2 linked regions of the Homo sapiens genome follow. Changing the gene in region 2 together with the main gene of any one other region gives a genetic interaction. Each region holds a gene or a part of one and is shown on either strand. Other genes may lie near its edges.

The links. Genes that interact genetically often act in the same process or in processes that back each other up.
Region 1: changes in POMC (region 2) and CHD1 together harm fitness more than expected from each alone (negative genetic interaction), as found in Homo sapiens cells (one large-scale study listed by BioGRID).

Annotation. Positions count from the first base shown.
Region 1 is NC_000005.10:98,894,508-98,898,007, forward strand, and holds part of CHD1 (chromodomain-helicase-DNA-binding protein 1), read right to left. Parts: intron 2,814-3,500; coding exon 2,686-2,813; intron 1,936-2,685; coding exon 1,719-1,935; intron 180-1,718; coding exon 90-179; intron 1-89. UniProt on the Homo sapiens protein: ATP-dependent chromatin-remodeling factor which functions as substrate recognition component of the transcription regulatory histone acetylation (HAT) complex SAGA. Regulates polymerase II transcription.
Region 2 is NC_000002.12:25,162,676-25,165,904, forward strand, and holds part of POMC (pro-opiomelanocortin preproprotein), read right to left. Parts: intron 3,011-3,229; exon of another isoform or gene 2,961-3,010; intron 2,148-2,960; exon of another isoform or gene 2,118-2,147; 5' UTR 2,098-2,117; coding exon 1,966-2,097; intron 1-1,965.

The DNA of each region.
Region 1 (3,500 bases), on a different chromosome or scaffold from region 2:
TTAGGCTATTCTCTCATCTTGTCCACAGCATATGATAAAGAAAAAACTGATATACAAGAGACCAAAACACGTGAGAAATAAATACATACCTTATCTTTTAATAAAATTTCATAAGTTGTTAACAATATATTAAATTTTAACCGTTTGGTCTGATGATGCGTCCATTCATGAGTTCTTATCTATTAAGAAATTTGAAGGACAATTTTTAAGACAAACATCAAGCAAATTATACTTTTACTTACATATCTAAAAATTAAAATCCATTCAAATATGTAAGTAACTATTAATATATGTTTATGTAATAAAAGAGTTTTTGTGGTTTTTTTTTTTTGAGACAGAGTTTTGCTCTTGTTGTCCAGGGTGGAGTGCAATGGCGTGATCTCGGCTCACCACAACCTCCACCTCCCGGGTTCAAGTGATCCTCCTGCCTCAGCCTCCCGAGTAGCTAGGATTACAGGAATGCACCACCACGCCCAGCTAATTTTGTATTTTTAGTAGAGACAGGGTATCTCCATGTTGGTCAGACTGGTCTCGAACTCCCAGCCTCAGATGATCCACCTACCTTGGCCTCCCAAAGCGCTGGGATTACAGGCATGAGCCGGCATGCCCGGCCAGAGTTATTCTTTATATAGTCCAAAATGCTATGTAAATCTTATAAATAAAACATAAATACCACAGCATTTCTTAAAAAACGAAGTAAACACAATTTTAAAGCACATCTTTCACAAACGAAAAGGTCTTATTTAAGAAAACATAAGTGATTAATTCATTTAATAATGTAATGTTTATGGATGAAATATGATGTCTGGGGTTTGCTTCACAGTAACTAGGAAAGTCGTGTGTAGAGGTATAGACAAAACAAAACTAGCAGTAAATTTGTGAAACTTAAGAACATGAGTGTTTATTACATTCTTCTGTCTGTTCTCATGCATATTTGAAATTTTCCATTAAAAATGTAAAATAGGCTGGTATGGTGGCTCACGCCTGTAAATCCCAGCACTTTGGGAGGCCAAGGCAGGTGGATCACTTGAGGTCAGGAGTTTGAGACCAGCCTGGGCAACATAGTGAAACCCCATCTCTACTAAAAATATGAAAATTAGCCGGGCCTGGTGGCAGGCGCTTGTAATGCCAGCTACTTGGAAGGGTGAGGCAGAAGAATCACTTGAACCTGGGAGGTGGAGGTTGCAATGAGCCGAGATCACACCACTGTACTCCAGTCTGGATGACAGAGTGAAAACAAAAAAAAAAAAACCCACCAAAAAAACAGTCAAATATATATACTAAGTAACACTAAACCAAAACTGACTTTGTTACAGTCAATTAAACATGTACTGAGAACTTATTTGTGGCAAGTTCTATACCAGAAACAAAGACTGTTATACAGACCAAAACAAAACAAAACCTCTCATCCTTGTTAGGCCAAGAACGGTGGTTCATGCCTGTAATCTCAGCACTTTGGGAGGCCAAGGGAGGCAGATCACTTGAGCTCAGTTCAAGACCAGCCTGGCAACACAGTAAAACCCTGTCTCCACTAAAAAATATAAAAAATTAGCCAGGAGTGGTGGCGTGCTCCTGTGGTCCCAGTTGCAGTGAGCCAAGATCATACCACTGCACTCCAGCCTGGGAGACAGAGTGAAACCCCATCTCAAAACAACAAAAACACTTGATCTCAAAGACAAGTACATTTTGATTTCTACATTTACAGGGAAACAACTTACCATGTTTCTGCTGTTAATGTCACCTAAATAAACCACAGCATTCATTTGAGAAGCCCAAGTCTGAATTTCCCTTTGCCAGGAAGTAAGAGTGGAGAGCGGTACTACCAATAAAAAAGGTCCATATAATTGATGTTCATGAAACAAATAATTCAGAAATGAGATCGTCTGTATTGTTTTTCCAAGGCCCATTTCATCAGCGAGTATGCAACTATTTCCTCTACAAAGTTAAAAAAAAATTAGCATGCAAGGAAATATTCAAATATACAAAGAAACCTTTTTACATCATGTGTATATGTTTTTATGAAGTTAAATAAAATTGATAGGTATTATATAGAATATACCACTTTTATTAACTACAAATAATAAATGTAAAGGTATCTGGCTAAAGACTTAATCACTAATGCTGTAAGAAAAGTAAAAGGAGATGACCGTTTTGGGCCAGAAGAGGCTTAAAGATTAATAGTATTATGTTTAATCAATTATGAAGCCAATAATGCAATTCATCTACTAGTAGTAGAGTCCAGATATATTAAATAAGTAAAAAGTATATAGGAAGAACACAGATTAAAAAAAAAAACTATAGCTAAATTGCAACCGAGATTCACAAAAGTAGAGTGGGGGCCATAGAAGATAGAAAAAAAATGTAGAAGAGTAAATGGATATTAAAATAACTAGGAAAAAGAGAAATATTCCAGGAATAGCATGGGATGAGAACAGATATGCATTTTGATTTTTAAACTGAATAAAAACATATTTTAAAAAGGCAACAATCAAGTTAAACTCCAACTCCACTGGATTTTCTTCCTAGTATGTAGTAAGTATTGTTTATACAAACTAGGAAATACAAAGACTAGCATATAAACTGCCAAAGAGTCTTATTCTTTATGTAAATGGAAATCTTTTCTGAATCCTGTATTGGTAAATTCTTACTCTGTCAAATTAAATAGATGATTCAAAATATACTTACTTGCACCAAGAATGAGCAAGCCAATTTAAACCATTCAGTTGATAATCTCTTAATTCTAAGCCCTCATGTCCTCCAATATAGGATGGCTGCTTCTTCAGGGCTACAAACCTTGGCCTTTGTTTTAATACCTTTAGTAGAAATAAACATTATTATGTAGAGTTATTAAATATAAGAAATTATACTAAAAGATGAAAGCCTCAGCTTTACCATAAATTCTTAAATTTCATCTCTAATCATCAAGCTCAGAGATTCCATTACTCAAAATGTACCTGAGGATTCAGTCAATACTGTTTTCTACTACTCTACAAAAATGAACAGTGAAATATTTTGCCTTCTTTTTTAAACAAAAATGTATAGAGAAAATTAACTTCCTGCCAAAATATGAGTCTCATGTATTTCACAAGCAAAACCTACGTTAAATTGTTCAAAACCATCACTCCAGCCTTAAGCTACAAACCATAAAACTGGCTTAGCTTACCGTTCAATTTCTGAATTCCAAGTTATCCCTATGAAGAATGTAATTCTTGTAATAAGGAAAGAAAGTCTAGTAGTCCATAGATCTCAACACATCACTAGTAACTCTGGGTAAGTTACAAGGATGCAGAAAGTATTGTGCAAGGTAGTTCTGGATACTTTCCTATATCACTCTCCTTTTTCTCTACCTTCTAAGAAAATATCCACTATCTTTAAAATTGAGCATATCTCTAGTTTCCAAGGGTTTTTTTCTGTTTATTCTCCCAACCCTTCCTGACAATCACCATAACCAACTCATCTTTCTGACATAGTGATGCTCAACAAGATAAAAGACAACACTT
Region 2 (3,229 bases):
TCCAGCCTGGGTGATAGAGCGAGACTCCGTCTCAAAAAAATAAATAAATAAACAAAAAATAAAAAATAATGCCTCAACCTTACCTCAGTGATGAAAAACCTACTTTATGCCCTACCCCAGCTCCATCTCTGCACTAAGCCTCCAAAACTGCACCTTGGTTCTTTCACGACTTCTGAGCTGATTTCTGAGAGATCCCCCAGTGAGCTCTGGGGCAAGCTTATTTCCCTGTAATCTCATTCTGACTGGAGGGAGGGGTGGAAAGCTAGCGTTATTTCCATTGCACCGTCTGTGGAACCTGTGTCTCTGCTCCTTGTCCCTAGAGGACTCTATTGTGGTACATATTAGCTTAGGAAAATGGCTGCATAGGCTGCAGCCTTGAGTTTTCAGTGATAAAAAGATGAAAAGCTCACTGGCTGCTCTCTTTCTTGGGAATAGCAAAGGAGAAAATAAAAGGATCCTACCCACTCTGTTGAGCTGGACATTGCCTACTCCAGGTGTTCAGAATTACAACTCTGTGGAACGTTAACAATGGAAAAAACTAATTTACACTCCCCTCCCGTGGACAGATAGTGAAACAGGAGACTCAGAGAGGTGATAGGACCTGGTCAAGGTCCCACACCTCAAAACTGGGTCTAGAACCCATGGGTCCTGACTGTGTCCAGTGCACCCTCCCTGGTGAGCTGTGCTGTGGGTGTCTCAAGTCAAGAGACTCTTGGGTCTTTCCAAACTGGAACTCACAGAATCCCCTGGGCTCTTTGTTTCTATTTTATATTACACATGAAAACTGGTCTGTGTCTTTGAGGACCTCATTCTATCTTCACCTTAACTCAGCTTCTGCATTGACAAAATACACAGAATGTAGTTATGTACATTCCACCCTCAGCACCTGCCAGGTGATGGCAACAAGATTAAAATTCCGGTCACTGACACTAACAGTATGGGGGTTTGTTTGTTTGTTTGTTTCATTTTGTTTTGTTTTGAGACAAGGTCTCATTCTGTTACCCAGACTGGAGTGCAATGGTGTGATCATAGCTTACTGTGTCGTCAGACTCCTGGCCTCAAGTGAACCTCCCAAGTAGCTAGGACTACAGGCACATGCCACCACATCTGGCTAACTTTTTTATTTTTTGTAGAAGTGGAGGTCTCACTATGTTGCCCAGGCTTGTCTTGAATCCCTGGGCTCAAGCAATCCTCCCACCTTAGCATCTAAAAGTGCTGGGATTACAGCCATGAGCCATCTCGCCTGGTCTCAGTGTGCCTTTTAATCTCTGGATTTGGCATCATTACTCATTTATGCCCCCCAACACACACACACACACACCCCCCACAGGCAGATACATACACCCTGTGGTGACCTGGAGGGAGCTCCTGCCTGATGCAAAGGGCCTTCACATGCTCTGGAAAGACTGTAGAGGAACACAGCAGAAGGCCAGTCCTCCAGAATAAACATGAGACATTTGGCACCAATTAAAGAAAAAAAAAAAAGGGCCCCTGGTTTTTCCTTCTTCCAGAGATGATTTGAAGAACTACCTGGCTGGTTTTGCAACCGGTAGTAGATAAAAGGGTAAGAAATATGGAATGAAAATGGCAAGTGATATGAGCTTCTTAAAAAGGAATAGTTTGGGAAGCTAAAGATTTAAAGTACAGAATAGATTGAGGGGTCCATTATTGCTCTTATAGCACCATCTCTAGCTTAAAGGGTTCAAGGTCTCCATAAAAGATGGGGCAAGAAGTAAGGATAACCAAGCAGAAATTGTGGACTCAACCCCTCTCCCTGAAGCTGCTTCCTTCCCTGATTTCTTCTCCCATTTCTTACTTCACTGCAAAGTTTTGCTCCTGCCCTGGATTGAATCACGCCTATCACTGGGAATGAATTTCCCTTTCCCCACACCCTTTTCTTTTGAGCTTTCCCAGCTCCAGTCCCATCTAATGTCTAAGCCAAGATGGCAGTCATGGCCCACGTACCAGCAGGTTGCTTTCCGTGGTGAGGTCCTGACACTGGCTGCTCTCCAGGCACCAGCCACGCACTTCCATGGAGGCCTGAAGCAGCAAGGCCAGCAACAGGGCCCCCGAGCGGCTGCAGCACGATCTCGGCATCTTCCAGGCAGGCTGAGGCTCTGCAGAAGCAAACAAGATTGGTGGGACCCCTGCAAGGAGCAAAACAATGTTGGCCACTCACCAGGAAGGACCTTGAGCCAACATTAACAACACACTCTCTTGTGGAGTTAAAGGCATTTTAAGGACAGCAGCAATGCTGAGAAAGGAGGTGTGCAGTACAGCGGTGGTATAAGTTGTGATAAGGAGGAGGGAATGGTGGGTAAACTGTGACCATTTCCCTGTTATCTTCTATTTAAACGAGACCCCTAAAAAGGTTAAGGCTGGAAGCTATTTTGGGGATTGCTTGGTTCAGCCCTTCCCATGAGAGATGGGAAAATTGAAGCCCAAAGAGAGACAATTACTTTAATGTCCATGACAAGGTAAGGCTAAGCTCCTAACAGAGAACTTTCCTATTTCACTACATTAAGCTGTAGTTCTAACATGCAAGATCTCAGGAGTGAAAGTAACTTGGGAAAAACGGAGGACCCTGAAACTCCTGCTCAAGATGGTCTTTTCCCTTTTTATTCCACCAGGATCCTATCATTCCTCTGAAACTCTATTTCCTATGAATATTAGGTTGACAGAAAAGCAAATAAAACCACTGGCCAATTTAGGCAGCATTTCGAGCAGCCTGATTTGATGTCCTGCACACAAATTACTCTGGTGATCACTATTACCCAGACTCCAGTAACTTTGGAGAGCTTCGTTTTTAAAGCAGATCTCAGTTCTTTGAAATCTGGCTCATCTTCTGGACACGTCACGTGTCAGATGTCTTGTTCTCTAGAGCTCTCAAATGTGGTCTGAAATGGCAGGATTTGAAGAGGATGCAGATGTGGAGGGGAAAGAGACCAGAAGGGAATTACCTCCTGGTGGAACAGCCACTGCAGATACTTTTGGAGAATCCAGCAAGTGCCTGTGGGCAGAAGCTGAGGTCAAGACACCAGGGGACAGTAAGGAGGGGGCATCCATGGTGCCCCTAGCCCCCTGTACCCACCCCTCTCTCCAGCACTACCCTCGCACTGCCAAATTTCCCTTAACCAGGTGGGCCCCCTGAAGCCACCTCGAGGCCGGAGATCAGCTCACCGCCAACCCTACAATCATTTTGGATTTCAGAAGATCTTCTCAGCCAGCT